Linked DNA regions of Homo sapiens. Each later gene encodes a partner of the first gene's protein in a complex. Links are inferred from orthologs where the notes say so. Each region holds a gene or a part of one and is shown on either strand. Other genes may lie near its edges. The genes, in order: GRB10 and NEDD4.

The links.
Region 2: the proteins of GRB10 (region 1) and NEDD4 are in contact, whole or in part, in a crystal structure (PDB 3M7F), measured with the Mus musculus proteins. The link is inferred for Homo sapiens from one-to-one orthologs. Residues at the interface, in NP_001357532.1 of Mus musculus: Ile514, Arg516, Gln518, His519, Phe521, His522, Gly523, Arg524, Asp548, Gln579, Phe581, Gly587, Asn588, Thr589, Lys590, Phe591, Ser592, Ile595, Gln596, Asp599, Phe600, Leu603, Asn604, Ile617, Arg618, Val619, Ala620; in NP_035020.2 of Mus musculus: Glu71, Leu72, Val79, Arg104, Ser112, Ile114, Leu115, Thr116, Ser117, Val118, Gln119, Glu134, Ile135, Leu136, Phe137, Arg138, Leu242, Pro243, His244, Pro245, Pro246.

Annotation. Positions count from the first base shown.
Region 1 is NC_000007.14:50,587,193-50,603,020, forward strand, and holds the end of GRB10 (growth factor receptor-bound protein 10), read right to left. Parts: intron 8,339-15,828; coding exon 8,245-8,338; intron 5,907-8,244; coding exon 5,760-5,906; 3' UTR 2,876-5,759; downstream 1-2,875.
Region 2 is NC_000015.10:55,853,357-55,869,184, reverse strand, and holds part of NEDD4 (E3 ubiquitin-protein ligase NEDD4), read left to right. Parts: intron 1-6,105; coding exon 6,106-6,272; intron 6,273-8,406; coding exon 8,407-8,524; intron 8,525-8,610; coding exon 8,611-8,778; intron 8,779-12,988; coding exon 12,989-13,054; intron 13,055-15,828. UniProt on the Homo sapiens protein: E3 ubiquitin-protein ligase which accepts ubiquitin from an E2 ubiquitin-conjugating enzyme in the form of a thioester and then directly transfers the ubiquitin to targeted substrates. Specifically ubiquitinates 'Lys-63' in target proteins.

The DNA.
Region 1 (15,828 bases):
TATACAGCTACGGCAGAGTGGATCCATTTGCCCACATGTGAATATACAGCTATGGCAGAGTGGATCCGTTTGCCCACGTGTGAGTATACAGCTACAGCAGAGTGGATCTGTGTACCCAGGTGTGAGTATACAGTTACGGCATAATGGATCCGTGTGCCCAGGTGTGAGTATACAGAGCAGAGTGGATCTGTGTGCCTACGTATGAATATACAGTGATGACCAATGAGAAAATGTGGTTCTATTATAAATTTACCAGCTGTCATTTCTGGAGTTTCATCTGGAAGTGGTGTAAGGGCTGGACGTGAAGGTGGGGTGACCACAGGAAGTGAGAGGAGTTAGTTGGTTGGCCATCTTAATGGCTTACGTTGTCAAGTTCTTGAAACTCTCATACTCAGCCTTACTTTTGTTTTGTCCTGGTAGCATCCAACACAGCCCTTGTGGACTTCCCTGCCTAAACTTCCTGTCTATTGGCTAGTCCAAGAAGAGCTCATCTCCTTTAAAGAACCAGCACTGATCTTCTATGTAGATACCCCAAGATAAAAGAAAATAATAGGAGAAAAATGGTAGCAAGAGCATTCTGTAGAAAAACATTGCTGTGAGTAGATTAAAATTGCAACCAAACATAATGTCACGAACTTAAAAGAACAAAACAAGAAACAAGAAAGCAATCACATCACCGAAGGTCAAAGCGGAGCTGTAAAAGCTCAGGCACTAGATAAAGAAAGCTGGCAGAGCTCTGAAGAGAAACGTCAGAGAAAAGTGAAGCCAGCCTAGCAGGGAAGTGTGCAAGGAAACAGCATAGAGAACAGACCCTACTGAAACACCATCACGGATATGGAGGAGGACAGGACTAAGACAGCAACTCAGATTCAAACACCAAGAGAGCTGCAGGGCCTCTCCGCAAATGCTAGGAGAGGTTGACAAAAGGGAGCAAACACACAATTTCCATCTTTTTGCAAAGATGTAGCAACATGGACGGAAATGGAGACACCATTTGAAGTGAAATATGCCAAGCACAGAAAGACAAGCTTTGCATGTTCTCACTCCTCTGTGGGAGCTAAAAAAGTGGATCTCATGAAGATAGAGAGTAGATTGGTGGCTACCAGAGGCTGGGAAATGGGATGGGGCAGGGAAGTGGAAACATTTATAAGGACTGTACACTTAAAATGTAAACATGGTAAATTATGTATGTATATTTTACCTCAATAAAAAACAAATTAAAAAGAAAAAACAAAAAGAAAAATGTATTTAGATGCAATTCACAAAACATTCCCAGAAATCAAATGAGACTTTGATGTAGTTACAGATCAAAAGTGCCTACCATGTCTTAAAAAACAAAAAAATGACACCAATTGCCACCAACCCCAGTGTCTTTCTCCTTGTTCCCAGAGGACCCCAAGTTCCCCGAGGGACACCACTCATTCTGAAGTGCCCTTTGCTAGCTGTGCTGAGGCCAGCAGCCATGGACATCCTGTCACGTGGCCCTTGCTTGATCTTTGCAGGCCTCCCAAGCTGCCCATCTTGTGGATGATGACTGGGGATGGCAGATGAAGCCCAATTTTGTCAAAGGCGGATTTTTCATTTTTGTTTCCTGCCCTTCTTAATGTTGTATAACTTCCAAAATGAAAAGGGGTAACGCTGCCTTTACCATTCTATAATCGGAAGATGTTGAATATTTTACCTTTTTACACTTAAGAAGCTAAGGCTTTTATCATTAAACAAAATCCCTTTTTATAATTTTACTCATCACTCAAATGCTGTGAAAACCGATGAAGAACGTGCTGGAGGCAGTGAGATGCATTCTCGCGTTGTGCCACAGGGGTGCTCTTGGGAGGCCATTGGCTGGCCCTGCGTGGCTGCACCTACAAGCTTCTTTGGTGTTACGATCAACAACTGCAGTTGGCCCGGTGGGTCCCCACCTGCCCTGGGCTCTCCTTGTATGTTGAAGCAGAGGGTGGGCTTCCAGAAACTGAGAATTCAGATTCTGAAAACAAATGACGGGAGAGTCCACACAGCACAGGGGCCCTCCTGCTGGTAGACCAGGCTAGCTTGTGACAACATGCACATGCCCTCCAGCTGACCAGGGTGTGACAGGGAAGAGGCATGAGATGGCAAGTCTGGCCCAAGTGTCAGGTCAGTAGCTCAGCCAGGATCATCCCAGGCGAGGGCTGGAGAAACAACAATAATGGGCATCTATTCTTACTCTGTCAGTTGTTTGCTGGCTTAGAAAACCTAGGTTCTAGACATTTTAATTGTCTTACTGCAGTGGAAAAAATGCCAGTTGGGCTCAAGGGTGAATGTGAGTTTCTTGAGGTCTTTCTGAAGCCTGTGTGGGTATCTGACGGTTTCTGAAACCTTCTGAGGTCTGTTATTTTTATGGGGGAGGAGAGGCCAGCTGAGAATGTCTTGCCACCAACTTGGAGCACTAAGCAGCCAAGAGCCTGGTGTCTCACGAGGGCTGTGCAAGCTTGTGTGTGACATGTCCCAAACAGCTATGGATTCCTTGTGATAGTGTCTAGCTAGTGGTAAGAAGTGTGTTTTTAGTATTCTAAGTCATTTCAAAATGTTTTTAGTGGATGACAGGCCAGGGTTTTTTTTTTGTTTTGTTTTGATAGGAGTCTTGCTTTGTCACCCAGGCTGGAGTGCAATGGCACAATCGCGGCTCACTGCAACCTCCACCTCCCAAGTTCAAGTGATTCTCCTGCCTCAGCCTCCTGAGTAGCTGGGATTACAGGTGCGCACCACCATGCCTGGCTAACTTTTATATTTAGTAGAGACGGGGTTTCACCACATTGGTCAGGCTGGCTTCGAACTCCTGACCTCATGATTGGCCAGTGTTTTAAAATTAGAAACAGATATCACCAGCAATAGAAAATGAAGAACACTGTATTAATGTTTATTTCTAATTACAAGAAACAGAACATCAGTCCCTTATTTGTACAAAAATACCTGAAAGTTTACAATTAGGTTCACGAGCCAAAGAGCTATGTACAGAATGAAGCAAAGCACATGGAATAAAGGTTTTGTCTCTTCATTAATACCTTCTGCATTCCCTGAAAACGTTTATACACGCCAGGCCAATTTACAGTCACTGCAGTTTGCACTGTGACATCACAAATCTACCGCCAGCTTGCCCGCCCCCAGAAAGGCGCAGAGATCGGTCATACTGTCAGGTATTAAGTGCAGAAAAGAGAAGACAAAACATCTAGGCTGAGGCACATGTTTCTTCAAGGTTTAGCAAACAAAAGAACATTCTGGAACTCTAACACCTAGTGTAACAGAGCTTACCTATTAAACTCTAATAACCAAAGCATTTGGCGTTTTCCTTCTCAACTTCGTCCTGGTTGCTACATGGAGTTTCATTTAGAAAAGAAAATCACAGGCAGAGATACAAAGTCAACAGGCTCCAAAACAACCCTGAGCTGTCCCCTTTACATTCATGTCAATTAAATACAAAAATAAAAGTCAAATGTCCTTCCGTCCCCGGTTTGCGGGACTTGTTCTCAGGTGGAATTCCCAGCCGCCCAGCGCGAGGCCAGCGAGCTGGGGCCTTAGGAAGTCTGCCGCCACGTGGAGGCGGTTTACATTCTCCAACAATTCACTTCGGCAGGGAAAATACAAAAGACTACGTCAAACCAGCTACATACAAAACTGTGAATCAGAGTCAAGCTTTTGTTCTCCTTTTAAATAAACGCATATTTATAAATATGAAATACTGCAAATACAAGCTGTCTATTGGAGAGAGGCGTGTGAGAGAGAGATTATACACTGATGGGACTGGTCTACGTACACAGAAAAAAGAAATCCTAGAGTTGTTTTTCCTTGAAAAGGGTTTACCTCGAGCCAGTGAAGAGGAAGGAATCGTGGTGTAACTGCAATGTCCGTCCCTACAGTGAAGCCTGCCACCAGGTGTGAACGTGAGAATTATCTTACTGTCAATAGTTTGAAAGACTGACTGGCTGCGAAAGGAAGAAAATGCAATTGAGCACTGATGGTTAAAAACATGTTTTGCTAGAAAATTCTTCATTTGTATACCTTTCATGGAAAACAACTAGAGTGTGGTCTGTAGACTGACATACAGTGTTACTATACGGTAGACTGACTTCCAGCTGACTGGCCTTACTGAAGCTTGTGACACTGCTCTAGGCTACGGGGGTTGACTGAGGAGCAGAGAAATGCTGTTCCTTAGGGAACACTTCAGTGGGGCGGATTTGGGGCAATATCATGGCCAGCACACATTAATAGAAGCCAGGCAGGTGTTGTCTTGAAAAAGGAAATCATTCTGCTCACCACAGTAGTTTGTCGCCTGTCAAAGGAGTCCTTTCTGCTTTACAGGGATCAAAGGTAAGGAAATGGCCACTCTCACACCTGATCACTAAGCTAAGGGGACGTGGCAAAGGGGGCCACCCGAGGGGCGGAGGGGACCAAGTGACAACTCAAGCCACCATCTGACTCATCTCCCGGAGCGGGGACAAAGTGTTGTGTTGACAAAACTCTTCCATGTCCACAACCACTGTGAGGTACTTCTGACCCTAAGCCAGCAGAGGAGGAGCCTCTAGCTGCTCTGTGTTCACTGGCTTATGGGGGTTTTCAGCAGGACGGAGGGCTGCAAGCAAAGATCTTTAAATATCAGCCTGTGCCTGTGGCCCCTGCAGCGTTTCCTTGTCTTTATCACTATGGAAACCCATGAGACACAGCACGAAGACAACCAGGTGCCATTTTCTCTTTAGATCCTTTAATCCCCCGAGGGACATCAGCCGTGAAACGACTCACACCACTGCAGCAGCAGGGGTAAGGCAGTGATCGTTCTAGAACAGGCTGAAGGCTGTGGAAACGCAAGGCTGAAGTACCCAGGTGGATTATGCAGCATCCACCGCTGGCCGATGACGGGTGCCAGGTGTGTCTCAAGGAGGCTGGCCCACGTCAATCTAGAGGCGAGGCCATTCAGCCTGCTGTTTGTGGAACAGTGAATTTTCCAAAGGAATAAAGTCTCCTGCACTGTGCAGAACAAGACACACTAATAACAAGAGGATCTGACATCTGAGCATAGAGAAATGATTAACAGACTGTGGTTGCTTGACTGAGTCCACAAAATATGCCAAATGCCTACCACAGTGACACCTTTTATTTTAACAAGAAAGCTTTTCAAGTATACTGGGAAGGGCTGGGTTTGTCATTTGGGAGCTGAATCCACACCGTGGTAGTCGGCAGAGGGTGTGGAGGACCCTCTGGGAACATTTGGGGACCCATATTCAGTTTGAAATCTGCCCATTCAAAACTCTTTCTGTATTATATGAGTTGAAACGCCACATCCCCCTCCTACAATAGGCTGAATACAATATTGAAAACAAAGAAGGAGTGCAAAAAAGTGATCAATACAAAAAAAGTAAACATATCAGTTTTAATTGTCAAGATTATTCCAGGGCAAGAGTTCATTTCCAATCACTTCTCTCCGGTTCTTGTTCCTAAGCGGCCCAAGCCAAGATGATCATTCCAGTTTATTTTCAACTTTCCGCTGGATCTTCCATGCCCTCCCCAATTTGGCCGATGCAGAGGGAGGCGACCCTGCTGGGTTCACAGCAGCAAATCGTCGTTTAAGTCCAACAAACTAGTCAATCTTGGTCGGCTGGCACCGAACAAACCCATCTCGCTCTGGGTCCCCAGGTGCAGAATCGATGTGTGTTCTTCACCAACGCACAGACCGCTTCTTCACTCCAGTGTTCACTTCCTCCAGTCTTCAGCCGAGAGGACATCTGCGGTCATAAGGCCACTCGGATGCAGTGGTGCTTGAGTTTGCAAGGCAGGACTCCTTTGTTCAGCTGGTAAAAGTCAACCAGCTGGATCAGGTCAGAGAATTTGGTGTTCCCGTCATCTAGGCTGAAGAACGTCTGCCCGTCGTCCTCGCACTGGAGAGACACAAGAACACTTGCCAGGTTAGAGGCTGCCACCTCAGGGAACAGAACGGGGCCCACGGCCAGCAGCAGCTACATCTGCCCATGATTTGATTCCAGAGGGACACACAGGGCAAGGTAGGCTAGAAAACACCAGGGGCGGGAAAGACGGGAGCAGAGGATGTGTGCTGGGGGCTGCCATGTCCCTGAGCGAGGGACAGACTTTGGGTGGGCTGCGGAGGCTGCTGAGGACAGCTAGCTCCCCTGCTCCCTAAGGTGGTCAAGGGGAAGGGCTCGAAGTTGCCCCCAGTTCACCCAGCTCATGAGAATTACATTTACCAGTTAACTTGTAAGTACCCACTGCACACAGCATGCCCCGAGAAGACTGCACAAACCTGGGTCCTCACTATACGACCTCAGCCAACTCCTGAGGCCCCAGGGGTTTACTCTGCTCCATGATGAAGCAACTGTTGGGTGGCTATGAGGGATTAATAAGCTCACGCAGGTAAATTCCGTTCCTAGGTCCCTGAATATGGGGCAGTTATTTTTATTAAAGCAGGGGAATGCCACAGTATCTCCCAGAGAGAATCATATTCCTAACACCTATTTTAACTCAGTGAGTTTTCAGTTGGATGACTGTAGTACAGTGCAAAACACTGCTGAAAGGAGGTCGTGTTGTTCACAGGGAATAGGTCAGCCTTAAGGCTTGGCTAATTAATGAGCTTGGAACCACTTCGTAACTCTAAAACCATTGCTAGAGCTAACAGCACATCCCACAGCCAGTTTTCACACACAGAGGCTGCACACCTAATGCCCTAAGTCCCAAGTTGCTGTTCTTTTGTTACTTGTAGGATTTGGGCATTACACACTCTGCCTACCACGAAAGCCCCCTTTCTTTCTTTTTTTTTTTTAATTTACTCATCCAGCCTAAAATGTCAATCACTTTTCATTTTATATTTTGAGCTAAAAGAATTATAACTGTGTGAATAATATAATGCAGTAGAAGAACAAAAAGGATTGTCTATGCAGCACTTTCCCTAGGACAGTAATTCCTGTATTTGCATATAAGGTTGGCTGGAAGCTGGGAAGGCTGGGCTCAACCCCAGATTCTGTTCCTCACCCCAGTGCGGTGCAGGAAAAGCCACTGACAGCCATGAGCCTCATTTTCCTCACGAGTAAGGTGGGGATGTCAGCACACAGCAGGAAGCAAGCAGCCACAGAAAAGACAGTGCGTGGCACACTGCCTTCCCCTGGCTCACAAAAGCTAAGCAAGACACCCTCCTCATCCTGTATGGTCCATGGCTGCCAGTCACTACACGATTCTTGAGATCATAACAAAGTCCTGGGGGTCAGATAAGCCTGAAGAACTCCAGGTTCAACTGTGTAAAACAGGTGAGTTTAGTTAATTTAAGCCTTCTCAGAGCTTTTTCTTTGCTGACATGCAGATTGAATCTCTGAGAGGAAACTGTCCAGCCAGCCTCTTTTGGTAGAGTTTGGGTTCCACAGGATGCATTTCACAAACATTATCATTACCTGCAGAATTTATCAATTCAGCATGTAAACAGCTGCTATTAATTTTGTGTATTGTATTCTCAACTAAACTGAATTCTTGTAGGCGCTGATCTAGCACTCTAATCATGAACTAGAATTGAACTGTGGCATACTGAAGTGAGAGGTAAACATCAGGCGAATCAAACATAAAGTGCTTTGTCAAAAAAAGTAGTGTTGATTAATGTATTCTGTAATGAAGTTTTTGGAATTGTTCAAAGGGAGAATGGTCTTTAGATCCAAGGACCATGTGGAAGGAGAAACAAAATTACTCTTTGGGAGGCCACTTAACGCTTCTTGGATAGCCCTGGTGTACACCAGGACAAATTACAAGACTCCTCAGACTCCAGCAGCCAACAGGCAATCCTGCTGCACAACTCCTGCCTTCCAGACCCACGTGCTCACAGCTGCTGCGACCTCAGCTAATTCTCCTCCACCTCCCCTTCCTGTGACCTTGATCCTTCCCATCAGTACCCTTTCAGCTGTGGGCCCTCAGCTAATTCTCCTCCACCTCCCCTTCCTGCGACCTTGATCCTCCCCATCAGTACCCTTTCTGCTGCAACCAAGAGCTCACAGGCTCAAGGGGGGCCTCAACACCCTATCACCACTTTCAGGATTATTTCCAGGGAAATGTTTTTCTAATTTCAAAAGACAAACCTGTAAAGAAATTCTTGAAAGTTTCTTAACTGCAGCCTTGAAACTGTCTGATACTTACCGGTCTTGTCGGTTTATAACTTGAAAATTGCATTAAGAATGAAACCAGAAAACAAACCACAAGGACTGGTCTGAGAACATCAATACTTACAGGTAAGATCTGGAAATTTTTAATTTTCTGGTGATGACACAGTGTGAGTACAAATGCCTTTGGATTACTCTGGCTGTCACGGAGGAGAAAAAGCCTGGGGAAGGGAAAATAGTTGATTGCTAAAATATTTTAAAATCTGGAACTAATCACACACACACACTCTCTTACACACACACACACACACACACACACACACACACAGGCTTGGAGCCACAATGCTTCAGTGCAGTGCTTTGGCATTTAAGTGGCCTCTAGGGGCAACAGCACACCAGGCAAGCACCAAGACGGTAATTCTGAATTGTCATTCTCCATTGGAAAAAAGCTGGGCTCCTTGGGGATATGCCTGACTACAGGGTTAGGGCAGGGAAACTATAGGATGAAAAGGATTATTTTGTGCCTGCATATCAAGAAGTGCTCAAAGAATAATGAGGACATGTCAAAAAGACACAGGAGGCAGGATGACTAAATCTGGGCATCAAAATGAATTTTAAAAGTAATGAATCATAACCCATGAAATCGGAATCCGTGTCTGTAGTATTATTTAAAAATAAATAAGCAAATAAATTAATACGGGAGAAGATGAAAATCTTTCTTGGAGGAGAATGTCAGCCAATAAATAAAGGCAAGATGTATTCAAAAACTACCCTTTGGCAATTACTGTAGTAACTAACAATTAACGAAGGAGGGGGGATCTTCAACAAATGCTGAAACCAGCAGATGAAAGGTGGATGAGAAAAAAGAGTATTTTCATGGCATCAAAGTATTGTACTGTTAATACTTATTTACTACAAAGGGGAAAATAATAGCTTTACAGTGGAGAAATCCGGCCGACAGCATCTTCTTCATCAAGTGTCTAAATTACCACCACTAGCAATGAGACAAATTGACCTTGAGGGCTTCCGGAGACGATGTACTGAAGATGACACAACATCACTTTTCGGGGGTGCTCCCGCCAAAAATGCATAGCCTGAATCTCACCATGAGTGAGGAGCCTAGGCTGAGCCCAGGCACACTCTACAAGAATTGGCTTCTACTCGAAACGCAGGTCAAGATTATGAATACATGCTGGGAGAGAAGATTTAGGATGAAGATGTTCTTTTGCTATAAAGGAGGCAATTAGGAAGAAGGGTATAGATTAGACAATGAACTGCGTCGTCAATGTTAACTTCCTGGTTTTTATAAGGTACTGTGGTTATAGAAGTTCTTGTTCTTAGAAATTTTACACTGTAATAATTCAGACTAAAGGGACATCATGCCACAACTTACTCCTAAACGGTTCAGAAGAAAAAACAGTAACTAAGAACAAAGGCAAATGTGCCATAATCTTAATAAGGGTATCTGGGCGAAGTGTGTATAGTTCATCCTATTACTATTACAACCTTTCTACAACCTTAAAATTTTTTTTTAATCCTAAATTAGAATAGCACAAAAAAGGCATAAAATCATTGCTCTTACATGAGAAAATCTGGAGTTAGCTGAAAAGATAGTTATACATCAGAAAGCGAAGAAAGATCCAATGAAAGCTACAAAGAAGAAATGGCCTGAAAAGGAACTCACTTTAAATGTATCCAAAACCAAACTACAATCATCAGCAAAATCACCAGGTCTAGATTGTAATGTGAAGATGGAAAGCAGTTAAATAAGACTGGAAAATCCCATGCTGAAAAGGTAAAAGAAATATATTTTACTACAGGACTTCTCAGAGCCTTAAATATGTGAATATTCATGGTAACTGCCTAGCAGTTTTCCAATCTTACCTATGTAGAAACCTCCCCCACCCTTTCTAAAATAGCACTTTGCAGGCCTTGTGTGCTTCAGGATATACTTTGGGAAACACCGATCAGAATGGGATTCCATGGTTTGGCTTGGTCAGGCCAGATGGGACGGCGTGAGGAAGCTCAGACCCCACTGGGGAACACGCGGCACCGCCAGAGAGAAGACAAGGAGATCCAGTTCTTCTCCCAAGCGCTGGTGCATGCTGGGCAGCTGTGCCCACCTCAAAGACTTGTCAGAGTCATGTCATTCCAAATAAAACATCGTTACTCTGACACCCAGAAGTTTGCCGAGCTTCAGCTCTAACTAGAGGAAAATGTGGGGCGTCCCTTTCTCTGCCGTTAACTATCTGCTGTCTCCTTCTGCAGATGGGAAGCTACAGACGAGTGAATGGCAGCATGGCCCAGGCCTGTTTACCCGAGAGGGACGTGTACCCCTGAGAGGGGCAGGCTCACCCTGGGAAGTCCCAAGGCTGCTGGAAGGCTTGAGCTTTATAGGGAATGCCTGAAGGTTGTCTATCTGAGATGACTGCTATGCGGGGAGAATGGCATGGCTTAGGCATCAGCAGGAATCCTGGATAGGTCACTTATTAGCTTCATCATCTTGGGCAACTTCTCTTCTCAGCCTCAATTTCTTCATCTGCAGAAGGGGAACAACACCTCTTTTTTTTTGAGATGGAGTTTTGCTCTTGTCACCCAGGCTGGAGTGCAATGGTGCAATCTCAGATCACTGCAACCTCCGCCTCCTAGGTTCAAGCGATTCTCCCCTCTAAGCCTCCCAAGTAGCTGGGACTACAGGTGCCCGCCACCACACCCAGCTAATTCTTACATTTTTAGTAGAGATGGGGTTTCATGGTATTAGCCAGGCTGGTCTCAAATTCCTGACCTCAGGTGACCCGCCCACCTCGGCCTCCCAAAGTGCTGGGATTACAGGCATGAGCTACTGCACCCAGCCAGAATAACTCTTCTCTTACAGGACCATTGAGAAGACCATGGCTGATGTATATACAGCTTTGTGCATGATCACACGCAATACAAGGTAGCTTGAAATAACAATCACTGCAATCAGCCAACTGCCACAATCCAGTGATTTCTAAGGGGATTGCAGTTATAGGAAAGATGCCCAGGGAGAAGCTAAGCATGTTAAGTGACTACTAACCAGGCTCAGAAGTTGTAAACACGGCCCAGGATGGACAGTGGCAAGAACCAGGTAAGTTCTTAAGAATCGATGCTAGGGATGGTGCACTCACCAGTCCATCATAAATGAACGAAGAGCCCCTTGTGACAGGACCCGACAGTGATCAGAGTACAATCTAGACCACGTTTACAAGCAAGACACCGTGCAAAGTGTTTCATGCATGTATTAACTCATTCATCTTCATGGTGATACTGTTATCTTCATTTCACAATGATAAGGGAAGTGACACACAGAGAAGCTAAGCAACTTCCCCAAGGTCACACAGCCAGTCATGGAGGAGTTCCTGGTTCAGCAGGAAAAGCAGACGAAAAGTGAAAGTATCCCTCTTACAAGGGTGCTATGTGAGTCCTGGGGATAACACCTCTCTTTCTGCGGTTGGGAGAAGGGAAAGCTTCAAAGAATTCAAATTTTGCCGAAGAGGTTTCCTTCCAACATGTGGAGGGGCATGAAGTGCAGACAGAGGGACTGCACAGGCAGATGACACAGGGATCGATGCCTGGCACAGCAGGAAGGCCAGTGGGGCTGGACCATGAGTGTGGGCATGGCAGGGGGGGCATCCACATGCCCTGGGGGGATAAGCATGGTGTTGGGGGTGGGGTGGGATTGTTTGGCAGAGAGGACTACAGACCTAGATTTCCCCTTAAAAAGATCCTTCTCCTGCAGTTCTGGGACGGGCATGGGTGGCAAGACAGGAAGGAAGCAGGCGGCAAATTCAGTGCAGGGCTGGTAAAGCACGAGTATGTGCGCGCACACGCTCAGCTGCATGGGTGGGGACGGGGATGGGAGGGGAGCTGCCTGGATCCTGGGATTTCAGGAATACTTGACGGGCTTATTTAAGGCTCTGATGTCTCTTTCTAACTGCATACACCGTTTGAGAATAAAGCTATGGAAAATGCTGTTGTTATACTGTCTGTCCAGAATCTTGTGCTGTTTTTCGAGGTGGTTTTCTTTTCTTTGTTGTTTAACTCTTTAAACTGGCTTGCCTTCATCATCTCTGCAGGGATCAGTAAAGATTAGAAATGGATTATTTACCTTGTTATACAAATACACCTCCTCCCTACACCCAAGAATTGAGAGGAAGATGAGCTGTTCCTGTGTTAACGCCTGAATCAATCCCATTATCTGCATTTCTGTGTGTGGTTAGCGCTCCAGCAGCCTAAGGCGGGAGCTGGAAATGACAGCCTTGGAGACGAGGAAGGCTCCAGGGAGGACGGAGAGGAACACCTGCTGAAGAATAAGACGGGCGGCACCAGCCGGGCTGATTTGGGGAACGGAAGGTAACAGAGGTGATGCTTCTATCGCTTTACAGGTCTGGAAAGACGGATGCCTCACCAACTGGGTTTCTGATCCGAGAAAAATTGAAAGACAAACATGGCTGGGGGAAGCAAAACGCTGACACACAATTCAGGTGGCCCAGCAGTGCTGACCTGCAATCCACCCCACCCCAAGGCAGCCCTTTCAATCCAAAGTGGACAGAGTGGGCCTTATCCCAGAATCACTCAGGAAGCTTCTTCAAACATATGACTGCCACACCCGCCCCCAAGGTTCAGAAACATCTTCGCCTCGGGATGATGGGCGTCCTCACTGCCCTGGCCTTGGGGAGGACACTTAGTGGCCACAGCACCAAATAAAGCCTCCTGTGGAAGTGCCAATTCTCCAGCAGAGTGACGCTACCCCGAAGTGAGCCTGCGCTGCCTCCCACACACGGCAAGGGTAACAGAGGTCCCCCTAGAACATTCTGGGCCCACTGTTGATACGGTTCAGGGGTATAAGCAGGTATACACTGTATTAGAAGCCCCAGAACACACAGATACCCCTAACTCAAAAACGTCACAGAAAGAGAAATTTCTGTGTTAGGCTTTTCTCTCCTCAGGCATGCCAGAAACTTTAGAGGAGAAACATACTGTTTTACAGTTAGAGGAGGAGTTGCTTCTAATGCTTTGAGAGACTGCTCTGTGATAAAGCTGACATCTTGAGTAAGGAGTTTTGGAGCAATTGTAAAGCCACATGGGAAACAAAATAAAATCAGACCCATACTCTACCCAGCAGTGAGGATAAATAAACCCAAGTGCATCTGGGATCGAAACAAAACCAAACAAAGACCAAAAATGAACCAACTAAGGACAAAAGAAAGAAAGGGAGAATGCAGAGAGCAGGAAGGAAGGAAAGAGGAGCAGAGGGAAGGAAGGAGAGAGGGGGGAAAAGAATCCAAGTACAAGACAACATGAATGCACCCCTTTATGATTTAGGAGTGGGAAAAACAAAAGTGTCTGCAACTTAACTGATTAGAAAAATGGACAAAAAATGTAAACAGGGTAGAACTGCCAAAAGACAAAGAAGTCCTTCCATACATGAAACGAGGGTCAGCCTCCTTCATGAGAGATGCGGCTGACAGCATGACTCTCAGATGAAGAAGTAAGCCTGCTGAGGGACTCTGGTGATACTTCACAATATTACATAGGCCCTGCCCTTCCACCCCACAGCCCCACTTCTCAGGACTCATGGCAAAGATACATGGCAAAATTATGAAACAATGCAGCACTGTGTCTCATAACATTTGCCTGGAAACATGGTGAACATCCCTCAGTAGGGGACATTTTAAAAAATGATGTTCCATGTACATAAAAGAAAACCCAAGAGTGGAAAAGAAATGTGGGCCATCGCGATGCGCTGCTGTGGAGCGATCCTTGGGATGCAGAGACTGCGGGAACTGCGCAGCGCAGTACTTGCAGCACGCTACATTTGCTTAACGAGAGGCAGAAAACAAAATCTTTTCACTCGTATTTGTACAATGAAATGACAGAAGGATAAACAAACACTAATAAAAGCTGTTTATCTGGTGTAGGGGTTGGGAGGCAGAGTTGAGAGGACAGGGCATGTGCCTTATTTCATAGATCTGACTTTGGAACCATGAAAATGTTTTATGCAATTTACAAAGCAGCATTCAACCAAAAAGAAAATAAATCAGATCCACTTGCAAACACTAAAGAGAAACTGAAACAAACAAACCTGATTTACCCAGCAGTTTGGTGACAGAACCATAGAGAAGAATTACTTTAAGTGACTTTGGGCAAGGTATTTTAAGGTAACCTGCCTGGATTAATCCTTAAGGATTAAAAGGACTGTAAAGAAATCGCAATTCAGGTGTCTTACTGAATAAATATCAGCATTAATATTTTCAAGATATTACAGGTATGTATTTTGTATTATGTAATATAAAGTAATAAGTAATTAAGTTAATGCCATTAACAGAGATCATCAGAGGAAAAAAAAAACAACAAAATCAAAGAAGTAAAAAATCCTGTAATCTCAAATTTGAATTAGCAATATCAACGTGAACCCAACATTTATTTTTTGTTTTAAAAAAGCCCATGTCCTAGCTCTGTTTACTAAAAAGATCTAAAGATTGTAGTCTCCAAATACCATTTTGCATTAGAATGAATCAGGGTCCCTGTGAGAAATGCATCATTTGAGTCTAATACATCTTGTCACCCCAAAATCAAATACCATTAATGCTAGCTCAAAAGAACTCAGGAAGCAACTTGAAGGAACCATTGGCCAATGAGGGGCAAAGTGAGCGTCGAGAAGAGGTTTTGACTGAAATAAATCAAACACAAAAATCTAAGTTCACAGTGACAGTTTAAACAAAATCCAAACTAACAACAAAAACACCCCTTGTTTGCCTCTAGTGGAAGGTGGGAGAACACAAACTCGTTCTAAAAATTGACAAGTAAAGGGGAAAACCAGGCATTTACCTACTTTTTCCAGGAAATATCTAATGCAAGAAAGAACTTCAGCTCATATAGGAAGGAATTAGAAAATGATGATTTTGGAACACCTAATGAAATACTGAACCTGGGCAAGTTCACCAAGGGCTGCTAAAACCATGTGGTGGACGGGGACGGTAGCCTTGGTGGGGAGGTTCCAGCTGGCTGCACTTGAACCCCTGCTCACCCGACACCACTAAACAGCAACCAGGCTTCAGGCCTCCTCCACTCCAGGCAGCAGAGCACCCAGTACCTGCCCTGCAGACACCAGGCAGAAGAAATGCATCTGATCACACCATGACCACCACTCCCCAGGAATCAGGGAGACAGAGGAACTTATTAAAATAAACCACAAACATGCTATTAGCAAATGACCCACTTCTTTAACAAACAAAAGATGTTTAAAAAAATAGAAGAAAAACAGAGTGATGAGAAAGACTATTTTATATCCAAGGAGACAGAAGTATATGGTATAGCATCTAAATGCCATTTGTGGGTCCTACCTTAAATAACCTCAACTTAATTTAAAGGAGTTTTTTTGGTGACAACTGGGGAAATCTGAACATGGATTAGCTTTTAGATGATAGTAAGAAATTCTTATTTATTTAGTTAAGTGTAATAACATTGCAGTTATATCAAAACAAAAGGGTCCTTATTTTTTTAGAGACAGGCATTGAGATGTATTTGCTGGCAAAAATTTAGGATATCTGAAATTTCCTTTAAAATAGAAGAGGAGGAAGAGGAGGAGAAAAGGGAAAAGAGAGATGAAGAGGAGGAGGAGGAGAATGTAGGAAAGGGAAGAGGTGAAGTAAGCAGGTTGAAGCTGCGTGATGGGTAAGTGGGGTTT
Region 2 (15,828 bases), on another chromosome or scaffold:
GCTCATAGGAAAGGAGGGGAATTAGGGAGCAAGGAAAATTTAAGTGATCTAATAAAGAGCCTTCTGTATGTGGGGCAAGTAGAATTTAACAATTTTCATGGATGACAGGATGAGAGGAAAGTCCAAGTCAAGATTTGTGTAGAGTTACATGCATCTGGAGTAAGCAAGTAGGAGGCAGAAAGTATGTATTTGGAATAGAATTGGATAGGGTTTGGAGACTGGAATCCTAGTTGCACACTCTGTCTAGCCAGACCTGTGTGAGTCATTGAACTTTTCCGAACCTCAGGATCTTGTTTGCAGAGTGACAGGATGGCATCAGATGACCTCGAGGGTTTCTTCCAGCAAAAAAATTTATGATTTGGAAAGGGGTCAAAAAAACACCTGCTCGTTGAGGTTCCCTTTGAAAGCACATTATCATCAAAAAGAAGTATCATTTATTCAGTAGCTGTGTTAGTCCATTTTCATACTGCTGTGAAGAAATATCAGAGACTGGGTAATTTATAAAGCTTTAAAAACAGGTTTAATGGACTCAGTTCCACATGGCTGGGGAGGTCTCACAATCATGGTGGAAGGTGAAAGAGGAGCAAAGGCACAGCTTATATGGTGGCAGGCAAGAGAGTGTGTGCCAGGGAACTGCCCTTTATAAAACTATCAGATCTCATGAGACTTATTCACTATCATGAGAACAGCACCGGAAAAACTCACTCTCATGATTCAGTTACCTCTCACTGAGTGCCTACCACGACACGAGGGGATTATAGAAGCTACAATTCAAGATGAGATTTGAGTGGGGACACAGCCAAACCATATTAACAGCAGTTACTGAAAGCAAAGCACACAGCGTATGGCACCAAATTGCTCTGGAGGGTTCTTATTTGTTGCCTTGCTTAACACTTTCTCCTCTGACTGAGGGCCTGCTTAGGTCTCCATAAGAACAGTGAAGCTGAGGGCCTTCCCCAGGGGCTAGGCTCTACCTCACATGCCCATGTACCTTGAGAAAGAAAAGCTCTAGAACAGGTAGTGAATTTGCAGCAGAGCTTTCTGGGAAAATTTTAAATGCACTAATGAGATTTTGCTTTGCAGGAGAATCTATAATAATAGAAGGAAAGACCTTTTTTTTTTTTTTTTGGAGTCAGAGTCTTGCTCTGTGGCCCATGCTGGAGTGCAGTGGTGCAATCTCAGCTCGCTGCAGCCTCTGCCTCCTGGGTTCAAGTAATTCTCATGCCTCAGCCTCCCAAGTAGCTGAGATTACAGGCATGTGCTACCATGCCTGGCTAATTTTTGTATTTTTAGTAGAGACAGAGTTTTACTATGTTGGCCAGGCTGGTCTTGAACTCCTGGCCTCAAGCCGTCCATCCGCCTCGGCTTCCCAAAGTGCTGGGACTACAGGCGTGAGCCACGGCACCCAGCCAGGAAAGAACCTTTTTTCTTCAAATCACAGAGTATAGATAGCCCCTGGTTTGGTGATCAAAGAACTCTCTTCACTTATTTGATTAACTTTTTGTTAGGTATTTTTCTCTGATTTTCGTATAATTGTTTTTAAAGTTTTCAAGTATTCATTCAGTAGAAGTTTCTCTACCTGGCTTTTTGGTGTACCAGAGTATCTCGAATAATGGAATTCTGTTTGAAATGAAGGATATCTGCTGTAAAGAAAGAAAATTATTTATTTAGTAACTTGAAAAAATTTAACAGCATTTCATTATTTAGTAACCTGCTCCAAGTTTTGCCCACATGCACGCATCATAGGACCCTATTCACAGTTGAGTTTCTGTGGAGAGAACTGCTTCACTTCATTTTGCGGTCTCATGTCTCAGTGTTTGAATTCCCTCAGAATGCACCTTATAATTTCAGGAGATGTAAGCTTGTAGGAGTTTATTTATGAAAGGCCCTAGGAATTCAAACACATGAATCTGTGCTTATTTACCTTCTGTGTAGCTAATGACTAGAGGAGTCTTGCCTAGTCCTTTGACAGCTAGTTTGTGACTGTATATATAAAATTCTACTATTTAAGGAAAACAATTGTAATTTTGAAATGAAGCTCACTCTTAGGTAGTTTGTATTCTGTAGTAAAGTATGGCTATAATAGATAATTATGTAACATTTGATTTTTGTACCATTTGCAACTTTAGGGTTAGTTGTATGTATTTTACAAAATTAACATAAAATGTTGGTTGTACCTCTGAATGCTTTCTTTCTGACCCTCTTTGACTTGATTAAATTGTGAGCAATTACATATTGGCTTTGCGGTTAGAAATTAAATAAGGTTCATTGATACTTAGAAAGTTATTTTATAAAGAATAGCAGCTGATACATATTTAATAGGAAGGCCTTCTATCCAAAAAATTGACTGTATAGAGGCATTGTATCCAGTCTTTCTAAGCCGTGTTTGATTGTACAACTCTACTTCCACAAATTTGAGACAGGTCTTTTTTAAGCCCTTAATTAAATTAATTTTTGTTCTTTCTCTTCCTGAATTTACTCAGATAATATAAATACATTAAGCAGACATTTAAGAGAGAAATCTCTAAGAAGCTTTAAAAGAAATATTCTTTTGCTACCATTTTTCTAGCACTATTTTTATAATCCTTTACAGCAGTAGTGAGAACTATTTTATTAATAAATTGTATTAATCTTAAAGGAAAAGTAATCAATGGTTATATTCAACCAAAAAATGTTAAATTTATATTTTCTCAAAAGAGTAAAATATAAAAACTTAACGTGTTTTGGGATTGAAACCAGAAACATACAGTCTGATTCAATATATGCAAGACTAAATTTTAGGTATGCTAGATCCTGTATTATCATAATTTAAGAGAAAGGAAAAGAAAGAAAGAAGGAAGATCAACATGGATGGGCAGACAAAGTAAGAGGATATAAGGAAAGAAGAGAATGAAATTTGGGCAATAAAAAGAAAAAATAGAGAGAACAATTCTTATAAAAGAGGTAAAAATTTAAAAAAAAAAAGAAGAAAGGTTGGGCACAGTGGCTCACGCTGGTAATCCCAGCACTTTGGGAGACCAAGGCAGGAGGATTGCTTGAGCCCAGGAGTTTGAGACCAGCCTGGGCAACATAACGAGACCCCATCTCTACAAAAAAATTAAAAATTAGCTTGGGATGGTAGTACACACCTAAAGCCTGAGGTGGAAGATTGCTTGAGCTCAAGAGGTCAAGGCTGCAGTGAGCTGTGATGGCACCACTGCACTCCAACCTGGGTGTCAGAATGAGACCCTGTTGAGAGAGAGAAGAAAGAGAGAAATTCCCCTCCAGACCTTTTCTCCCAAAATAATTTATTCTGTCATCTTCCTACTCCACTACTCGTCACCTTCTATACAGAGCTAGCCAAACTAGATCAGCCTTGCTGCAGAAACCCCTATCCATTTCTCCCTGCTACCAAAAAACATTCCTTTCCTTCCCAACTCTTTTCCCTGAGGCCTCGTTTTCAGGTCTAGCCTTCCAACGTGGAAGAATTCTCTTCCATCTTGGAAGCCGTCCACTGCCTGTCACACAGCAGTCATTTACTGCTGATCTCCAGGCCTAGAACAGAAGCTCTGTGTATCTAAGGAAATTATTCTGTGTCAGTTATCAAAGCACCAAAAATGTTTGCCACTTTGTCATTTGGTCTTTTTTTTTTTAATGTTATTTAGTAGTTTTGGCCATATACAAATGTGGGTGTTTTGTTATCAAATTTATGGATCTTCTCTTTCATGCCTTCAAGGTTTGGTGTCATACTTAACAGTGTCCCACTTTTAAAATATATTTCTAAAATTTTCAAAAGTTTGTTACTACTACTTTTTGGTTTCACTTTTAAACATTTAGATATTATTCAGTCTGTAACTTATCCTGATATAAGGCATGAGGTAGGAATTCAAGTGAAGTTTTTTCCAAATGGGTGCCCATTTTCTAAGTAATCTGCGTATTTTGCCACAGATTTCAAATGTCTTTATCATATTCTAAATTCCTATAAAGTTTTTTTTTTTTTTTTTTTTTGAGACAGAGTCTTGCTCTATCGCCCAGGCTGGTATGCAGTGGTGCGATCTCAGCTCACTGCAACCTCTGCCTCCTGGGCTCAAGCAATTCTCCTGCCCCAGCCTCTCGAGTAGCTGGGATTACAGGCGCCCGCCACCATGCCCGGCTAATTTTTGTATTTTTAGTAGAGATGGGGTTTCACCATGTTGGCCAGGCTGGTCTCAAACTCCTGACCTCAAGTGACCCCCTCACCTCAGCTTCCCAAAGTGCTGAGATTGCAGGCATGAACCACTGTGCCTGGCCGGAATTCCTATAAAGTTGAGTTTCTTTCTGGGCAAATCTATTGAGCTGCCTGTCGATGCATGCACCAGAACCACACAGCTTTAATTGTTGTCATTTATAATGTGTTTTTATCTGGTAGGGTTGATCTTCACTTCTTGCTTTTCTTTTTAAAAATTGTGCTGCTTATTCCTGCTTGTTTATGTTTCTGTTGAACTTGAGAGTTGCCTCGTATCTTTTTTTTTTTTTTTTCTTATGAGACAGAGTTTCACTCTTGTTGTCCAGGCTGGAGTGCAATGGCGTGATTTCGGCTCACCATCACCTCCGCCTCTCGGGTTCAAGTGATTCTCCTGCCTCAGCCTCCCGAATAACTGGGATTTACAGGCATGCGCCACCACACCTGGCTAATTTTGTATTTTTAGTAGAGATGGGGTTTCTCCATGTTGGTCAGGCTGGTCTCAAACTCCCTACTTCAAGTGATCTGCCCGCCTCGGCCTCCCAAAGTGCTGGAATTATAGGCCTGAGCCACCGCACCTGGCCTATTTTTTTTTTTAATCATAATACAGTTTTGTTGGAATCTTGGCAAATTTATAGATTAACTTGGGAAGAATTGACACCTTTGTGAGACTGAGTCTTCCCAGCCAAGAACAGACTATGTCTTTCCCTTATTTAGGTCTTCTTTTGTGTCCTTTTGGGAGCATTTTAAAGTTTTCTTCACCAGTTTATTTCAGTTTCTAATGCTTTCCTAACCAATCAGTATTTAATAGAATCTTTGACCTACTGCCTTTTCTTTTGTGAGGTTTCTCATATAAAAGCATTAACTCTTGCTACTCTTTTCTATCAATTCCTTACTTTAACTGCCCTAAGGCTTTATGTTAATTTTGCCCCTTGTTAATCTCTGAGAAACCAAACTTCTCAGTGCATTTTTTAAAAATCTTTCTTTGGCTGTTTTATGACTTGATAAAATGCCTTGCCTTGGTCCAGAGGAGAAAGAGAGAAATCAGACAAGGGAATGAGAATGACTTTTCCATCACTAGAGAGTTCACTGTAGCAGTTATTTCTAAATCATTTGCCTTCCCCATCTTGCCCCTTTGTATATTTGACCTTTATCAAATGATTTTTTCCATGTGTCAGATAGTTATTGATTTCTACCGTAAGCAAGGTGCTTTCTCTGTAGGAAAGACAATGACCAATAAGAAATAATCCTTGCCCTTCATTCAGTTGATAATTTAGAGAACAGCCTAAGATTACACTAGTAGTTTAAACTATACTTCTCAATTTCTCAGTACTTTCCAACTTTCCGTGGTTGTTTATTTAAACGATTTTTTGTCCTTTTTTTCTATTAGATTTTTTAAAATTTTATTTTTGATTGACAATAATTGTATATATTTATGGAGGACAATGTGATGTTTTGATATATACTTACAATGCAAAATGATTAAATCAGGCTAATTAATCTCATTAAATCACCTCACATACTTTTATTACTTTTTTGTTATGAAAATTTTAAATAGATTTGTTTTAAAGTTCTGTTTTATTGTTGTTTTGAGATGGGATCTGGTTCTGTCACCCAGGAAGAACCTGGTGGAAACTTTACAGGCTTGTGCCTTTAAAGTTTTTTTTGAAAAATTTTTAGACAATTTTAAACAAAATTTAAATGGTTATCATTTTTGCAAAAAGAGTCTTCATTATCATAAAGTATTTACATTATGGTCTTAAAAGTTGAGGATTGTTTATTCTGTCTATGCATAATTTCTAAAACTTGATATAATAAATCTCTTTTTAAATTTCCTTTAGCATATAATTTAGAAAGTTAAAAAAATCATGCGTAAACTTAATTGCTGCCATCCTGTTTTTCAGCCTGGCTGGGTTGTTTTGGACCAACCAGATGCTGCTTGCCATTTGCAGCAACAACAAGAACCTTCTCCTCTACCTCCAGGGTGGGAAGAGAGGCAGGATATCCTTGGAAGGACCTATTATGTAAACCATGAATCTAGAAGAACACAGTGGAAAAGACCAACCCCTCAGTATGTGCTGATGGCTTTCACAATTTTAATCTGGAAACACTTTAACTACGAATTTTCATTTTGAAGTCATGTCTCAGATGGATTCATAACAGTATAGTGATCCATAAACTATAAGAATACTAGGATTTTTATTGCCCAGGACTTTAAAAATCCTAACTCTGCTGTTTCGTTTTTTAAATGACTTGATAATATTCAAAATTACTTGACTCTAGATACTACCCTTTTAATTGCGTCTTAATTTTAATAGGTTTTTAATTTTATGTAGCCACAAATGGTAGATTTTTATTTTTAGGCTGAATTAGAAGTCTTGGAGAATTCTTGTAGTTTGTTATTAAAATGTAATAAAATGTTAATTTCTATAGTACTCTATTTTTAAAATATAAATTATTTGTAAAATATAAAGGACTCAATAATAAGGGTATTACGTTAAACGCGCATTTGACAGTCTGGTCAATGTCCACATAACTTCCAGCACGCACAGATCAAGGACGGAATGACTTTCAACATATTCTAACTTCTGTCTCCTCAGTGATTTTTTTTATTATTAGACTGTATATACATTTATAAAATCTCCCATTATTCATATTTATTCTCAAATCCCCTTCCATTTTTCCTTCCATATAGTCTTATAAAGTCTTCCTTTAGTCTTCTGTTTGAAACATACTCGTAATTTTTTAATGTGTTCATTAGCCTCCTAATTTTTGGCTATGATATTTTGTGCCTGATATATGCCAAGCACTTTTACAGATATTTTCTGTTCTCAAATCCTTCCAAAACAAATCAGCAATTCAAGTACTTCATGGCACAGAAGCTTCAGTCTTCATAGAGTGACGTACAGACTGCAAAGCTGAAGACACTATAAAATTCTGTAGAATTGCGCTGTTGCATACCTCAGTATTATGGCAAGCCTTACATGAGCAAAATCACAGTTCTTTCACTGTGGCTGATGTCATTTTCAGGTAGCCAAAATCATATATTTAGGGGGAAAAAAACTGAAGCATTCCCTTAGAGCCATGTATCAAAATTATGTTTTCTTTAGCTACGGTACAGTAAGAACTGGTCTTCTGACTAGCCTGAGCTCATGTCGCATTAAATAAACAGTAATTTTATTATTAAATATTTGAACAAAATTCTTGATCTGATAGACTGGTTATATTAAATGCAAATAATTAGAATAATATAAATGACTGGGGTAAGGGTGTTCAATCTGATTTTTTTTAATTTTAATTTCTGTGGGTCCCTAGTAGGTATATATGTTTGTGGGGTACATGAGAGGTTTTGATACAGGCATGCAAGGCATAATAATCACATCATGTAAAATGGGGTATCCATCCTCACAAGCCTTTATCCTTTTTGTTACAAACAATCCAATTATAGTCTTCTGGTTGTTTTTAAATGTACAATTAAATTATTATTGACTGTAGTCACCTGTTAAGCTATTAAATACTAGGTCTTATTCATTCTTTCTGTTTTTTTTAATACTCATTAACCGTCCAATCTGATTTATTGTACCTCTCCTAAGCTCAGACAAATCTTTACTATTACCTTTTTCAGGACAGGCCCATGACTGTATATTACGAAAAACAGATACCATTACTAATAGATATGTAATTCCTAAACCATTAAGCTTTTCATTATAAAGTTCTTACACCATCTTTCATTCTGCCCTTCACATTCATGCATGGAGTACTCTACTCCTGGCTTAAGACCAATTCTAGAAAATGTACTATCTGATTCACAAAGATGTATGTATGTGTAACTCTATTACTCTTATAATAACATGGCAAAATAATACAATGAAATAATCTATGAAGCGCTCTGATATTTATTCATTCAACAAATATTTTTGAGTACCTATATGTGTTGGACATTATCCTAGACATAGTGACAAACTAAAATATCAAATCAGACATGTTATACCTTTTCACAAAACCTTAAACTCCGTAAGGTACTCTAAATATACCAGTCTGCCTACCCATGATTGAATCTTTGCATGTTGAAATAGCCTTTGGTCAAAGACAATAAATTTTTTTATTGATGTAATGTAGATTTTTTTCCCAATGATCACAGAATCTTTGACAATCATTTTAACTACTTAAGACATGGATGATGGCTTTTTATACTTCCAATATAGGGACAACCTAACAGATGCTGAGAATGGCAACATTCAACTGCAAGCACAACGTGCATTTACCACCAGGCGGCAGATATCCGAGGAAACAGAAAGTGTTGACAACCGAGAGTCTTCCGAGGTATAAGTAGTTTCCTAGTTCTCCTTGAAAGACACATGCTATAGCAATAAAGTATGTGTGGCTCAAGCTTATTCTGTTCATTTTAGAACTGGGAAATTATAAGAGAAGATGAAGCCACCATGTATAGCAACCAGGCCTTCCCATCACCTCCACCGTCAAGTAACTTGGATGTTCCAACTCATCTTGCAGAAGAATTGAATGCCAGACTCACCATTTTTGGAAATTCAGCCGTGAGCCAGCCAGCATCGAGCTCAGTAAGATGCTCTTAGATTTTGTTACGGCTTCAGTAGTTTATATTATGCATATTATACTATTCAACAACTAACTTTTATGTAAAATTTTGTCTTAAATGCAATAATATGTAATAATACATTAGGGACCTTGGGACTTTACAACATGGTCATTTTTCAAATATCCTCATTAGTAGTATGGACCAGAGTCATGGCATCCAAATTTCCATTATGTCAGTGCCCTCCAGTCAAAAATCACTAGGGACACATTTGTCATTGAACAAGTTGGGTTTATTATTCATTTCAGCAAGGGAGAACACGCACCATTGGTGTTTTGGTAGCAGAATGTTAGAAAAGACTTCAGGGATTTGGGCTCCTGTTAGGTGATTTTGAAGAGGGTTTTAGGAAGCAGGACTTTGCTCTACATGAGATGCTGTTGGGAAGCAGGGATAATTCTATGATTTTGTATCTCAAATCTTATCTGTAGTGAGGCTAAAGCTATGATTAGCAAAGTAGAACAGTCACTCACATTTGCCAGGATGGGGAAATGTTTGGTATTTTGTGGCTTGGACAATGTTCATGTTTTGTCTATATTCAGCCACGATTACAGAGTGGTCTTGATTTTGTCTTGATCTTACCTATGAGTGCCAGGCCAGCTCTTGGATGTTAGGGACTGCTTTTCTCTCTCCCAGTTATGCTGAAGTTGGTTTTTTGTTTGCTTGTTTGTTTGTTTGTTTTGAGACATCTCACTCTGTCACCTAGACTGGAGTGCAGTGGTGCTATCTCGGCTTACTGCAAACTCCGTCTCCAGCTTCAGGCGATTCTCATGCCTCAGCCTCCTGAATAGCTGAGATTACAGGCGCACACCACCACGCCCAGCTAATTTTTGTATTTTTAGTAGAGATGGAGGAGTTTCACCCTGTTGGCCAGGCTAGTCTTGAACTCCTGGCCTCAAGTGATCCACCTGCCTCAGACTCCCAAAGTGCTGGGATTACAGGCATGAGCCACTGCTTCTGGCCTGAAGTTTTAACATTATATCACAGATGTCACCAACAGGTATATATGAATAAGAACTGATATACTTTGACTAAACAAGGAGATAGATGACATTTTCACTTCAGCCACCACTGTAAAAACTGTTGTCCATAGGGTTCAGAATAAAGTATCCCAGCATATGCTTCCACGATGAGAACTTCATAGCTAGCTGTCTAATATGTATCATCAAGGGAGATTGAGTAGAAGACAAAGATTATTCTCTGAGGATGCTATTTGTCATTTCCAGTTGAGGTTTCCCTGCCTTTCATTTAGTTAGTAAATATTTAATGAGAGCTGATCACATATATGCAGAGTACTATATGCTAGTTACTGAGGATACATCAGTCAATAAAATTAACAATATCTCCTGCCTTCATGGGACTTACATTCTAGTGCAGAGGAAAGCAAACTACAACCGGTGGGCCAAATCAGCAGCTGCCTGTTATGAATAATTACCATTGGAATACAGCCACATCATTTGTTTTGGTATTGCCCATCTCTGCTTTCACACGACATCATCTGAATAAAGTAGTTACAGCAGCAACCATATGGCCCACAGCCAGTATTTACTGTCTGGATCTTAACAGGAAATGTGTGCTAACCTCTGCTCTAGCATCTTCTTCAAGAAGCTTCACAGTAGATAGTTGTACGTGAATATGAATATCTGCCAGTAAATCCGCCTGCCTGCCTCCTGCCCTTCCTTTCTTCCATTTGTCTGTTCTGTCTTCCATTCATTTCATTTTTTCACAGGGGAGTGGGACAGGTCAGTCAAAGACCTAAACTACATTAGGCCAGGCGTGGTGGCTCACGCCTGTAATCCCAGCACTTTGGGAGGCTGGGATTATAGATGGGTTGAAGTCAGGAGTTCAAGACCAGCCTGGGCAACATGGCGAAACCTTGTCACTACTAAAAATACAAAAATTAGCTCGGTGTGGTGGTGCACACCTGTAATCCCAGCTACTTGGGAGGCTGAGATTGGAAGAATGGCTTGAACCCAAGAGGCAGAGGTTGCAGTGAGCCGAGATTGCACCATTGCACTTCAGCTTGGGTGACAGAGTGAAACTCCGTCTCAAGAAAAAAAAAAGAATAAACCATATTGATTTGCTGATGATAAATCACATACGATCCCATTCCCCTTCTTCCTGGTATTTTTTTTACTTAAAGTAATACATGGCAACCATATAGTGTAATACTATGCAGCCATTGAAGAGAACAAGGTGGGCTCGAGTGTATATGTTGGATGGAACAATCCCTAAGAGATGCTGGTAAATGAAAAACAGCAAGGTACAGAACAGTGTGTTTGTTACACCAGAATTTATGTAAATTATTTAAATGCAGAGCATAAATATGTGTATAATTTACTCGAGGACTAAACAGGAAACTAATAACTTTGCTTGCCTCTGAAGAGAGGCAAAGAATGAGCAGGATATATATTGTTTGTACCTTTTGTTTTTTTGAGATAGGGTCTCACTCTGTCGCCCAGGCTGGAGTGCAGTAGCATGATCATAGCCCACTGCAACCTCAAATTTCTGGGCTCAAGGGATTCTCCCACCTCAGCCTCTGGAGTAGCTGGTACTACAGGCACATGCCATTGTACCCCTGCTAATTTTTTTAAAAAATTTTTGTAAAGACTTGGTATAGTATTGTTTCCCAGGCTCCTTTTGAATTTTATAACATGTATGAGTGTTACCTATTTTAAAAAATATTTTTAAAGCACTGTATGGTTATGGTTACAAATTGAGATTGTATTTAGGTATATAAAATAAAATTTAAGACTGGGCATCTTGGCTCACACCTGTAATCCCAGCACTTTGAGAGGTCAAGGCAGGCAGATCACATGAGGTTAGGAGTTCGAGACCAGCCTGGCCAACATGGCGAAACCCCGTCTCTAATACAAAAATTAGCCGAGTGCAGTGGCGTGTGTCTGTAATCCCAGCTACTCGGTAGGCTGAGGCAAGAGAATTGCTTGAACCTGGGAGGTGGAGGTTGCAGTGAGACAAGATCGCACCACCATACTCCAGCCTGGGCATCAGAGCAAGACTCTGTCTCAAAAAAATAAATAAATAATAAATAAAAATTAAACCTTCTATCTTACCACTAATATATGCTCCCTCAGTTACTATTAGTGGTCAAAGACCTAAAGAATAAATGATACTGATTTGCTGGTGATAAATCACATGCATACATATATAGAAACTTTTTCTGTATATTCATAAACATGCATGCATACACATATATTTGTAGATGATTTTTTAACCTGAGATCATCTTAAACATACTTTTTGGTAACTTGCTTTTTTCACTTGCTGTCTCTTAGACATTGAACCATTTCAGTACAGATAGATGTACTCCTTTAAAAACCAACTAAAACAGTCATTAAACTCTGGCATATTCCATTGTACAAGTAACCCTTAAGGCATTTCACCAGTCTCCTATTGAAAGACTTTAGATTGTTTACAGTACTATTATAAACAGTACTACAGTGGATATTCTGATTCAATTTGTATGTGCATTGTAAATTTTGATGTCATTAAATAACAAAACTAAGATATTTCAGATAGTGATAATAGCATGTATAGAAAAACATAAGGAAAGAAAGAACATGAGATTTCCAGGAAACAAGTAGTCTGGAATGTCCAGGGGGTAGATTGCGAAGTGGGAAGTGGCTGAAGAAGTCAGGAAGAGGCAGGTCGTGGTGTTCAGGAAGCATTGTTTTCTGTGTTGTCATTGACTTCAGCTCCAGAAGGACAGGACTGGCTGTGCATTGCAGGATGCTCTGAGCCTGCAGCGTGCAGCATGGAGAATGGACTTAAGGAAGTAAGACTTGCAACGGGGAAACCTCTTAGGATATTGCTGCCATTGTAATCAAAGTGACAAAAGATGAAACTTGAAGTTAAAACAACAATAAAACTAGTAACTAAAGTGGAGAGGGAGTGTATTTGAGAATGGTTTCTGTGAAACATTCAAGAGAAGGTGTCCAGGAGGCAGTCCAGCACGGGGGGCATGGGAGCTGGATGTGTGAAGGTGTCCACGTAGGGGGCTGAGAGCGACCACATGACTCAGCCTGCACTCTCAACATTTGCATCCTAGCCAGCCTTCTCTCTTCTGCCCTGTCATATTTACCCTCACTACCTTAGCTGTCACTCAAAGGCAAATCACAAATATCAAGGTATTCTTCTGTTGTCTTGTTTTTTCACAAGAATCATTCCAGCAGAAGAGGCAGCTTACAAGCCTATACTTTTGAGGAACAACCTACACTTCCTGTGGTGAGTTTTACCCTCTCCCATCAATCAATAAAAATATAAAACTCAGCATCTCTTTTTATTTTTTGGAAGATTGAGTGTGAACGTTTGCCTTACAGGGAGCCAATACAGCACAGAATGTAGGCTCCAGGTGGTGATGTTCAGGGAAGGGGCTTAAAGACAAAACATGGAGAACCGTCTCTCCCATGTTAAAAGCAAAGTCTCTGCATGCTGGTGACTGTGGGTGGTATCTGGGCTTGTCAGTTGAAGTGCTGTGCTGGCTAGAGGTGATCCGCTGCATACGGCATACAATTCAGGATCACTGTGTCCATTTGCTGATGTTCTGCACATGCACATGGCATCCAGCAGCCATGTCTGCCCTGTACATGAAGAATAGCCAGGGTTTCATCACTCAGGCGTGCACTGGCATTCACATGCCCGGCAGCCAGGCTGGAGTTTATCAGTCCTTGGTCTGTTTCTTCCCTGCAATATCACATCCACCAGTCTACTAAGGCCTTCTGCTTCCTGCTCAGTGCTGTCCCAGCCACAGCCTGGATGGCAGCTTGGACCTTAACCCTGCCTCCATCCTCTTCCTAACACAAGCCTCACTACTGAGTTTGTCTCTGTTTTCCAGAAGCCCTACTTGTTTTTGAAACCAAAGTAAAACTCCCAGGCTCCCAGCCTCTTCAGCCTACCCTTCTCCTTATCCCCCAACAGAAGCCTCCTGCTGCCTTCATTCCTGTCTATGCTTTTTCTTCCAAGCAGACTGTTCCCATGTCCTGATTCTCTCCCGCTTCTGAGTCTGTGTGCATTCCATTTCCCCACTTGGAATGGCTTTCTCATTTTCTTCCCCAACCATCTGGAACTTTGAATGGCAGTCTAGATATCAGCTTTGAAAAGTAGGGTATGTTCTAGCACAGGAATGCAGAGTCTCCAAAATCCTCATCCCATGAGTGGGTTATCTGTCTAAATAACACCCTGCACTAAGAAAGGGACACAGATCCTGTGCTGAGGAATGAGAGGTCGCCCACCTATGCATCATTGCTCTGGTCAGTACTGACCATCAACAAGAGGACAGATGCCATTGAAAGACTATCATCGCTAGCCTTACTCTCACTCACTGTCATCTGTCCAGCCTCCTCCATTAGATCAGAGCCCGCTCAAGCTGAGTTCCATGGTGTTTTTCCCTCTGCACGTTATAATGTCCTCTATACAATGAATATGTGGAAGTTCTCATTGACTGACAGACATTCACCCAAGACACAATTTTAGATGGACCGGATGAGCAGCAGAATCTCGAGATGATTTATATTTTAGTACCAGAAAAGTTGTTTCCATGCCTTTTTTTTCCCTCAATACATTGATTGGGGTTTTTTTTAAGAGCTTTCTTGGAGTATAATTTACATACCATAAAATCCACCCATGTTTGATCATACAATTAAAGAGTTTTTGTAAATTTATACAGTTATGGAGACATCACCACAATCAAGTTTAAGAAACTTCTGTCACCCCCAAAAGTTCCCTCAATCCCTATGCCTACTCTCAGTTGCAAGCAACCGCTCATCTGCTCTCTATTGCTACAGTTTTTGCCTTTTCTAGAAATCTCGTGTAAAGGGACTCGTAGGGTGTGGGCTTACGTGTCTGACCTTTTTCACTTAGCATGCTGTTTTTCACATAGACCCATGTTATTGCATGCCTCTATTAGTGCACGGTATTCCACTGTAGAGATATATCCACTACATTTATCTATTCACCAGCTGATGGACACTTGTAGAACTGGGCAGCATTTAAATGCATCATTTTGTGATGTATCAGCTCATCACAACTGTCCCCAAAGTACGTAGGACTCCCGTGTATTTAGTAAGTGGTGTCTTCATTGTAGAGACTGGTGGTGATGGTTTTTATGTTGTAAGCCACCTTAGGGAGCCACACCAAACCAGGGCTTATCTGGTTCAAAATGACAACAGGAAGGCCAGATTTAGGACTTTTTTTTTTCGGAGGGGAGGGGGATGGAGTCTTGCTCTGTTGTCCAGGCTGGAGTGCCCAGGCGATCTCGGCTCACTGCAACCTCTGCCTCCTGGGTTCAAGTGATTCTCCTGCTTCAGCCTCCCGAGTAGCTGGACTACAGACGTGCACCACCATGCCCAGCTAATTTCTGTTATTTTGAGTCGGAGTTTTGCTCAGTTGCCCAGGCTAGAGTGCAATGGTGCAATCTCAGCTCACTGTAACCTCTGCCTCCCGGTTCAAGCAGTTCTTCTGTCTCAGCCTCCTGAGTAGCTGGGATTACAGGTGCCCACCACCATGCCTAGCTAATTTTTTTGTACTTTTAGTAGAGACAAGTTTTCACCATGTTGGCCAGGCTGGCCTCGACTTCCTGAACTCAGGTGATCCGCCCACCTCAGCCCCCAAAAGTGCTGGGATTACAGGGGTGAGCCATCATGCCCAGCCTGGATTTAGGACTATTTTAAGTAAGCCTGGAAATAACCAGACTTCTCTTTATTCATTTGTAACAAACTATGATAAATAGCATTCTCCTAGCTTTTAGAGAAACAAGGCAGGAGTAACTGTTGATTCAGCAGATAAGCATGATTTCTGTTGTTAGATTACCTGGGTTCAAATCTCAGCTCCATTCCTTAGAAGCCATGTCGCTTAACAAGTTACTTCCATTACTCTCGGCCTTTTGGCTAAGATCAAGTATAGTAACAAGTTACTTCCATATTGTAAGCTTCTGTTTACTCACCAGTAAAATGAGCCAGTATTAGTAATTATCTCATTGAAATTCAGGTGGGAAGTAAATG